Linked DNA regions of Homo sapiens. The protein of the gene in region 1 interacts with the protein of each later gene in a pairwise test. Each region holds a gene or a part of one and is shown on either strand. Other genes may lie near its edges.

The links.
Region 2: the proteins of RIOK3 (region 1) and CREB3L3 interact in a two-hybrid assay, tested with the Homo sapiens proteins (one large-scale study listed by BioGRID and IntAct).

What each region holds. Positions count from the first base shown.
Region 1 is NC_000018.10:23,473,421-23,478,145, reverse strand, and holds part of RIOK3 (serine/threonine-protein kinase RIO3), read right to left. Parts: intron 4,718-4,725; coding exon 4,520-4,717; intron 3,199-4,519; coding exon 3,039-3,198; intron 1,141-3,038; coding exon 1,060-1,140; intron 990-1,059; exon of another isoform or gene 968-989; coding exon 878-967; intron 1-877.
Region 2 is NC_000019.10:4,166,603-4,171,327, forward strand, and holds part of CREB3L3 (cyclic AMP-responsive element-binding protein 3-like protein 3), read left to right. Parts: intron 1-1,748; coding exon 1,749-1,855; intron 1,856-3,537; coding exon 3,538-3,606; intron 3,607-4,488; coding exon 4,489-4,573; intron 4,574-4,725. UniProt on the Homo sapiens protein: Transcription factor that may act during endoplasmic reticulum stress by activating unfolded protein response target genes. Activated in response to cAMP stimulation. In vitro, binds to the cAMP response element (CRE) and box-B element.

The sequences.
Region 1 (4,725 bases):
GTCTACTCGACTGCTTATATACAAGGAGCCAAAACACTCACTTATTCCCTTTAACATTTTTTTTTTTTTTTTTGGAGAAGGAGTCTTGCTCTGTCACCCAGGCTGGAGTGCAATGGCGCAACCTTGGCTCACTGCAACCTCCGATTCCCAGGCTCAAGTGATTCTCCTTCCTCAGCCTCCCAACTAGCTGGGATTACAGGCACACGCTACCGCACCCAACTAATTTTTTTGTATTTTTCGTACAGACAGCGTTTCACCATGTTGGCCGGGCTGGTCTTGAACTCCTGACCTCAGGTGATCCACCCACCTTGGCCTCCCAAAGTGCTGGGATTACAGGCATGAACCACTGCACCTGGCATATTTTTTTTTTTTTTTTTTTGAGACGGAGCCTCACTCTGTTGCCCAGGCTGGGTGGAGTGCAGTAGCACGTTCTTGGCTCACTGCAGCCTCTGCCTCCCAGGTTCAAGTGAGTCTCCTGCCTCAGCCTCCCAAGTAGCTGGGATTACAGGCGCCTGCCACCATGCCCGGCTAATTTTGCATTTTTAGTAGAGATGGGGTTTCACCATGTTGGCCAGGCTGGTCTTGAACCTCTGACATCAAATGATCCACCCACCTCACCCTCCCAAAGTGCTGGGATTACAGGCGTGAGCCACCATACCTGGCACCCCTTGAACATTTTACCCAACTGTAAGACATGGAATCAAATTCTTGCAAAATGAAATATGACAAATTGATCTTTATATCCTTGTCCTGAAAGCAGCCCGTATCCCTTCCTTCAATTTCTAAGAATATGGTCCTCTTACTTATCTTAGGAGTGAGAAAAATACCTGCAGCTGTTACATCCAACAAAAAAAGGCATATTGGTTTACACGTCTACCTGCGAGACATTCCTGCAGTCCCGGAACAAGAACTCCAGGCCGTGAGGGTGGGTAGGTTCTACTGACTGACTGACATCGATCAACCAGACCTATTTCAATACAGAACATGAACTGATGTATTTACATTTTAAATTTTACTTACAGTAATTAAATCTGAATGTTAACAAAATGTGCTCCTCACCTTTCCAGCATGCCACAGCATGTTATACTCACTGAGGTCAGCATGGACAAGCGTACATTCATGATATAACTGCCGCATCAACTGTGAAGAGGGAAGGCACACATTAGGAAATGAATAATTAAGTGGTATTATTGATGATGACACCCCTGAAAGTTTTTTATTTTTTATTTTTTTGGAGACAGAGTCTCACTCTGTCGCCCAGGCTGGAGTGCAGTGGTGTGATCTCAGCTCACTGCAAGCTCCGCCTCCCTGGTTCACACCATTCTCCTGCCTCAGCCTCCCAAGTAGCTCGGACTACAGGCACCCACCACCACTCCTGGCTAATTTTTTGTAATTTTTTTTAGTAGAGATGGGGTTTCACCATGTTAGTTAGGATGGTCTCAATCTCCTGACCTCGTGACCTGCCCACCTCGGCCTCCCAGAGTGCTGGGATTACAGGCGTGAGCACTGCGCCCAGCCCCCCTCAAAGTCTTACAGTAGAAATCAACATTAATGCATTTGTTTTCCAGCCTTAATAGAATTAAATAGAAAAGTTTCATCACTATTTAATCTCTTCCCCAGCCACCCCACCTCCCAAAGAGGCCAGAAAAACATACTTGATTTTCCTTTCAATGTTTACCTTTGGAGGCAGAGAAAGGTGGATCACCTTTCTAGCTATATCTTTAAAAATTAATTTGGATTAAAATTTCCATATCTAGATCAATGGCTGCATTACATGACAGCTTCATGTGGAGATTGCATAAAGTAGCACATTAAGTTTCTCCAGTGTTCAATTAAAACACAGAGGGATAATGGCAGTATTAGGAGCATTGTCTCAACCTGGAAGGCCCTCAGATTGAATTCAGTTGCTATTTCAAAGCATGTAGTTTCCTTGAGATTCCCAACATGCCTTCCAACTTAACACCTGCACTCCCTACTGTTTTCAATTTTCATCATCACTCTCTTATGATGAGACCAGACCTGCTTCCTTTCCTTCACTGTTAAAGCTGTAACATTCAATGGCTGGGTGTGGTGGCTCACACCAGTAATCCCAGCACTTTGGGATGCTGAGGCAAGAGGATCACTTGAGCCCAGGAGTTCGAGACCAGCCTGGGCAACATAGTGAGACCCTGTCTCTTATTTGAAAAAAAAAAAAAAAAAAAAAAGCCCCAAAAAACTATAACATTCATGAAAGCTCACAAACTAATGAGGCACTTTGCTAAATGTACTAACAGCAAATTTTATTTAATGAAGTTTGGTGAAAAATAGCTTCATGCACTGTGTCACTAATCCTAACAATGACGACTTCCCTGGTTAAGTCTGTAAGTTTTCTAAAACTATTTAAGACACACACATATTGATAGAAAAACAACTCTTCAGTGTTAACATTCTTTCACAAACTTCAACTTGTCTTTGTTATAGCACCTTGAAATAGCACTATCTAAGGAACTTGGGTTTTTTTGTTTGTTTTTTAAGACATAGGGTCTTGCTCTATTTCTTGCCCAGGCTGGGGTGCAGTGGCACAATCATAGCTCACTGCTGCCTTAAATTCCTGGGTGCAAGTGATCCTCCCACCTTAGACTCCCGAGTAGCTGGGACTACAGGTGTGTGCCCAGCTAATTTTTAATTTTTTTTTTTTTTTTTTGAGACAGAGTCTTACTCTGTCACCCAGGCTGGAGTGCAGTGGTGCAATCTTGGTTCACTGCAACCTCTACCTCCCTGGTTCAAGCAATTCCCCTGCCTCAGCATCCCGAGTAGCTGGGATTACAGGCACACGCCCAGCTAATTTTTTTGTATTTTTAGTAGAGACAGGGTTTCACCATGTTGCCCAGGCTGGTCTCAAACTCCTGGGCTCAAGTGATCCTACTGCCTGAGCCTCCCAAAGTTCTAGATTACAAGTGTGAGCCAACATGCCTGGCTTCTTTAAGGAAATTTTTTTAAAGTTTAGAGGAAATATTTTTTAAAGGTAGTGTGTGAATTCTTTTAAAAGCACAACTTACATGAAGAGTTTGATAGTAGGCTTCTTTCATTTCTTCACTATTGAGCTTTACTTCTTTTAATTTAGGGGCTGGAACTTGATCATGGCCAATAAAAGACATAACTAAAATGTGTTTCTTCAGTAGTACAACTGTTGGACAAGGAATTCCAGCTCTCTGCATTCTATACATAAAGAAATGATTCAGAATATACAGATCAGAAGGAGAGAAAATATGTCATTTATTCAATAAATATCTAATCAGGGCCTGCAATGAGCTGGCACTATGTTCTACCCTGGTGATGTGGGAATACAAAGACAGTAAAACACAGCCTCTGCCCATAGAGAGCTCAGGGACTGATGGAAATGACAGACAAGAGACAATTACAATTACGCACTGGCAGAGGTATGGGTAGGAGCTACAGGAGCACACAGCACCAAGGATGGCTTATTAGAAGAAGAGGTAGGGAACAGGAATTAGCCAGATAAAGACAGTGCAAGGGAATGCAGGGAGGTGTTCAAGAGCACAGTCCATTTGGGGAATGTATATCAATCAACATAGCTGGATCTGTGAGTAGGAGGAAGGGCAATGTGGGCTGAGGCTACAAAGACAGGCAAGCTCCACTATGGAAAACTGTTGAAGAATTTTAAGAAAGGCAGGAATTTCAGGAGTACAGAAAAGAGACTGGAGGACAGCAAGACCTTCTAGAAAATGATTCTACCTGGAATTAATTAATTTATTGAAAAAACATTTTTTTTTCTTTTTGAGACAAGGTCTTGGGAGTCTAACGTTTCCAGGCTGGTTTTGAACTCCTAGGTTCAAGCAGTCCTCCCATCTCAGCCTCCCAAGTAGCTGGGAGTACACGTGCACACCATGCCTGGCTTATTTTGGTGGGGAACTCTCAGTAGAAGAATTTTGTAACTGATATATATGAATAATTACTTTTGAAAGCAAATATCTTTAGAAAATAACAAACTAAAATTAAGCTTTTAATAAATTAAGATAATAGAAAGGTTTTTAATGAGAAGGATTATTACTGAATTTCTTGGTTGACAAAACAAATTCTTTGATAGAAAATAAATTGCTTAGAAAATTCAGATACAAGTATAAAAATTAAAACAAAATGTAATTTGATTGGTAAGAACTTACTCCCACAAAATTAACAAATTAAATGCAACAAACATTTTCTGAAACAAAAAAGAAACCATTTTTTTATGCTAAGCCTAATTGGATGCTGGAAGTTTTACTTCGTGATAAAAGCAATTTAAAAATGGCATTTAGATATATGATAAAGTGTCTAAGGCAGAAAATGCCCAGATTTCCCTCAAGCTTCATTGAGGAAAGAAAAAAGAAAATGGCTTTTTCATCCTAAAAGTATGAATCGAGGTTATACACCTGGCCTTTCATTATTTCTATAAATGAATGTAAAAGAAAGCATGGATTTTTTTATCCTAATGCAAAAAGGTATTTACCCAAGATTACGTCTAGCACAATATTTTCTTTACCTTGCGAGATTGTGCATTTCTTTTTCTGCCCACATGCGGATGATCTTACGTGGATTTAGTTTACTGAAGCGATCTTTAAACCTGAAATCATCTTTAATATATTTGTCACGATTCTTAAATTCATTAAGGGTTGTTTTAAATACCTTGATGGCACATTCTGTAGGTATAACTTTACTATCTTCCTTTTCATCCTCCATGCTAAGTGG
Region 2 (4,725 bases), on another chromosome or scaffold:
CCAGGCTGGTCTCAAACTCCTGGCCTCAAGCAGTCCTCTGACCTTGGCCTCCCAAAGTGTTAAGATTACAGGTGTGAGCCACCGTGCCTGGCCCCATCTGTTTCTATTGTTGTTGTTGTTTGTTTTGAGATAGGATCTCACTTTGTCGCTCAGGCTGGAGTGCAGTGGTACAATCTGCAGGTAGCAGCTAACTGCAACCTTGAACTCCTGGTCTCAAGGGATCCTCCTGCCTCAGCCTCCCAAGTAGCTGGGACTATAGGCATGCACCACCACACCCAGCTGATTTTGTGGTTGTTGTTTTGTTTTAGTAGAGACAGGGTCTTTACTAAATGTTGCCCAGTCTAGTCTTGAACTCCTGGACTTATGCGATCCTCTTGCCTTGGCCTCCCAAAGTGCTGGGATTACAGCACTGTGAACCACCGCGCCCAGCCTGACATTCCCATTTGAAGACACTTATTGGCCGGGTGTGGTGTCTCATGCCTGTAATCCCAGCTCTTTGGGAGGCAAAGATGGGCGGATCACCTGAGGTCAGGAGTTTGAGACCAGCCTGGCCAACATGGTGAAACCCTGTCTCTACTAAAAATACAAAAATTAGCCAGGCATGGTGTTGTGCACCTGTAATCCCAGCTACTTGGGAAGCTGGGGTGGGAGAATCACTTGAACCCTGGGGGTGGAGGTTGCAGTGAGCTGAGATCTTGCCACTGCACTCCAGCCTGGGTGACAAGAGCGAAACAAGAAAGAAAGAAAGAAAGAGAGAGAGAGAGAGAGAGAGAAAAGGAAGGAAAGAAAAGAAAGAAAGAAAGAAAGGAAAAGAAAGAAAAGAAAGAAAGAAAGGAAAGAAAGAAAGGAAGAAAAGAAGGAAAGAAAGGAAGAAAAGGAAAGAAAGAGAGAAAGAGAAAGAGAAAGAGAGAAAGAGAGAAAGGGAGAAAGGAAGGAAGGGAGGGAGGGAGGGAGGGAGGGGAAAAGAAAGGAAAGAAAAGAAAGAAACGTAAGAAAGAAGAAAAAAATTATTAATTAGTCTTAAAACACTTGCTGTCGCCAGGGAAAGGTGATGTTTCCAGGGATGGCCACAAGGTGGTGGAGTGGTACCCATGCCCAAAGTCTGGTGGGCAGTTGCCCATTTTACAGTATTGGGAGCTGGGAAAAGACCCTCAGAACCCAGGCACCTCCCAGAGACTCTGTGAGGGTTTGGGCAAAGGGTAGCTTCAAGTCATTAGGAATCTGCCTCTGGGTCCTTGGCTCCGGGATGTCTTGTATGCAAAGAGGATGGGGTGAAGTTGTGGGGTCGAGGTTAGGTGAAGTGGGGTCAGGACAGTGGGGACTGTCGCACCATCCCCAAAGTGAAGACTTTAATTTTTTAATTTTAATTATTTTATTTATTTATTTATTTATTTATTTATCTATTTATTTATTGAGATGGAGTTTCGCTCTTGTTGCCCAGGCTGGATTGCAATGGCACGATCTTGGCTCACTGCAACCTCCGCCTCCCGGGTTCATGCCATTCTCCTGCCTCAGCCTCCCGAGTAGCTGGGATTACAGGCACCCGCCACCATGCCTGGCTAATTTTTGTATTTTTAGTAGAGACGGTGTTTCACCATGTTGGCCAGGCTGGTCTCGAACTCCTGACCTCAGGTGATACGCCTGCCTCGGCCTCCCAAAGTGCTGGGATTACAGGCGAGAGCTACTGCCCCCGGACTCCAAGTGGGGACTTTCTGGCCTGAAACCCTCCTCCCCATTTCACTTGGCAGTACGAGGAGCGAGTGCTGAAAAAAATCCGCCGGAAAATCCGGAACAAGCAGTCGGCGCAAGAAAGCAGGAAGAAGAAGAAGGAATATATCGATGGCCTGGAGACTCGGTGGGTAGTGCTGGACCCAGACTCTACACTCGTGGAGGAAACTGAGGCCCAGAGAGAAGGAGATGTGGCTAAGGCCACACAGCTTAGAGTCTGACAAAATTGGAGGTGATTCTCCTCTCTGGGAGAGATCATGCTTCTTACTGATTGCAGGGATGGAAAGATGCCTAGTGATGGTGTAGGACAAGGGTTTGGGGGACCCTTTGCCCCCTAGAAGGTGTGCGGAAAAAGGACAAAGTGTGACCCATCCTATTCTGACCCTCTGCCTGAAGATAGACACTTCCTTTTTGTGTGTGTGGAAGGGTCTCCTTCTATCACCCAGGCTGGAGTGCAGTGGTGCGATCTTGGCTCACTGCAACCTCCACCTCCCGGGTTCAAGCGATTCTCCTGCCTCAGCCTCTCCAGAAGCTGGGATTACAGGTGCATGGCCACCACGCCCAGCTAATTTCTTTGTATTTTTGGTAGAGATGGGGTTTCACTGTGTTGCCCAGGCTAGTCTCAAACTCCTGACCTCAGGTGATCTGGCCGCCTCAGCCTCCCAAAGTGCTGGGATTACAGGCGTGAGCCACTGCGCCTGGTCTCTCCCCTTTCTTAAATGCAATCTGCTAAGCTCCTGATCATCTTTATCCAGGGTCATTCCCCCCACCACCCTATGTCCTGGGTAATTGTATCCCATTTTACAGACACAAAAGCTGAGATCAGAGAGTGGAGTGGCCCAAGGTCATGGGGAGAGGGAGAGATGAAACTTGAATCTCGGCCGGGCGCCGTGGCTCACACTTGTAATCCCAGCACTTTGGGAGGCTGAGGCAGGCGGATCACGAGTTCAGGAGATCGAGACCACGGTGAAACTCTGTCTTTACAAAAAATCCAAAAAAATTAACTGGGCTTGGTGGCGGGTGCCTGTAGTCCCAGCTACTCGGGAGGCTGAGGCAGGAGAATGGCGTGAACCCAGAAGGCAGAGCTTGCAGTGAGTCGAGATTGTGCCACTGCATTCCAGCCTGGGCGACAGAGCGAGACTCCATCTCAAAAAACAAACAAACAAAAAAAGAAACTTGAGTCTCCCAGGATGCCTGGTTGTCCTGATATTTCATCTTCTGGAAACATCACTGCCTGAATCTAGGAGGCTCAGCTTTTTTTTTTTTTTTTTTTTTTTTGACACAGAGTTTCATTCTTGTTGCCCAGGCTGGAGTGCAATGGTGCGATCTTGACTCACTGCAACCTCCACTTCCCGGGTTCAATCGATTCTCCTGCCTTAGCCTCCCAAGTTCCCAAGTAGCTGGAATTATAGGCGCCCACCACCACACCTGGCTAATTTTGCATTTTTAGTACAGGCAGGGTTTCACCATGTTGGCCAGGCTGGTCTTGAACTCCTGACCTCAGGTGATCCGCCCACCACGGCCTCCCAAAGTGCTGGGATTACAGGTGTGAACCACCACACCCATCCAGGGGGCTCAGCTTTGAATGAAGCCCCCTCCATATTAATGCAGAAATGGGACCTAGGAACCAGGCAGATGTGGGTTCAAATCCCAGCCCTGTCTGACCTGCCGAGTAACCTTGGATGAATGACTTCCCCTCTCTGGCCTTGGGTTCTCTTGGCTTGTAACGTGAGGCCTCTGGGGGAGATGTCAGTGGGGCCAGCTGGTGACTGGCATATGCTGAATGTCGATGCGTCTTCCTCCTTTCAGGATGTCAGCTTGCACTGCTCAGAATCAGGAGTTACAGAGGAAAGTCTTGCATCTCGAGAAGCAAAACCTGTGAGTCTGGGTCCAGCTGGGGCAGAGGACAGGGGAAGCAGCCCCAGAGTCCCTTTGCAGGAAGAGCAGAGAGCCCATGTGATGGCAGAATGACATAGGGAATAAGAGTTTTACCTATGGGCCGCGTGCAGTGGCTCACGCCTGTAATCTCAGCACTTTGGGAGGCCGAGGCGGGTGGATCACCTGAGGTCAGGAGTTCAAAACCAGCCTGGCCAACATGGTGAAACCCCGTCTCTACTAAAAATACAAAAAAATTAGCCAGGCGTGGTGGCGGGCACCTGCAGTCCCAGCTACTCGAGAGGCTGAGGCAGGAGAATTGCTTGAACTCGGGAGGCGGAGGTTGCCGTGAGCCGAGATCGCACCACTGCACTCCAGCCTGGGTGACAGAGCAAGGCTCTGTCTCAAAAATAAATAAATAAGGCCTGGTGTGGTGGCTCACGCCTGTAATCCCAGCACTTTGGGAGGCTGAGGTGGGCGGATCACAAGGTCGGGAGATCAAGACCATCCTGGCTAACACGGTGAAACCCCGTCTCTACTAAAAATACAAAAAAAATTAGCTGGGTGTGGTGGTGGGCGCCTGTAGTCCCAGCTACTCGGGAGGCTGAGGCAGGAGAATGGTGTGAACCTGGGAGGCGGAGCTTGCAGTGAGCTGCCATCCCACCACTCACTCCAGCCTGGGCGATGGAGCAAGACTCTGTCTCAAAATAAATAAATAAATAAATAAACAAATAAATAAATAAATAAAATAAATAATAAAGAGCCAGAGGCCCTTGAAGAATGGATGGAATTTGGACTTTAGCGGGGCTGGGGGACCCCGGAAATGGACGAGAAGCAGAACCGAGGCCCTTTAGGGCTCAGCGGAGGCCTGCCTGTCTCTCTAAGGTCCCTCTTGGAGCAACTGAAGAAACTCCAGGCCATTGTGGTGCAGTCCACCAGCAAGTCAGCCCAGACAGGCACCTGTGTCGCAGTGAGTCCTGGTGCCCCCAGGCAAGCCGGGGACCTAGGCTTCTGTAGAGGGGCCCATAGGGAGGTGACAATGAGTCCAAGCTCTCCTTGTGCCCCAGCTCAAGTATGATCCAGTCTGGTCTTTGGGGCCTCAGTTTCCCTGCCTGTGGGATG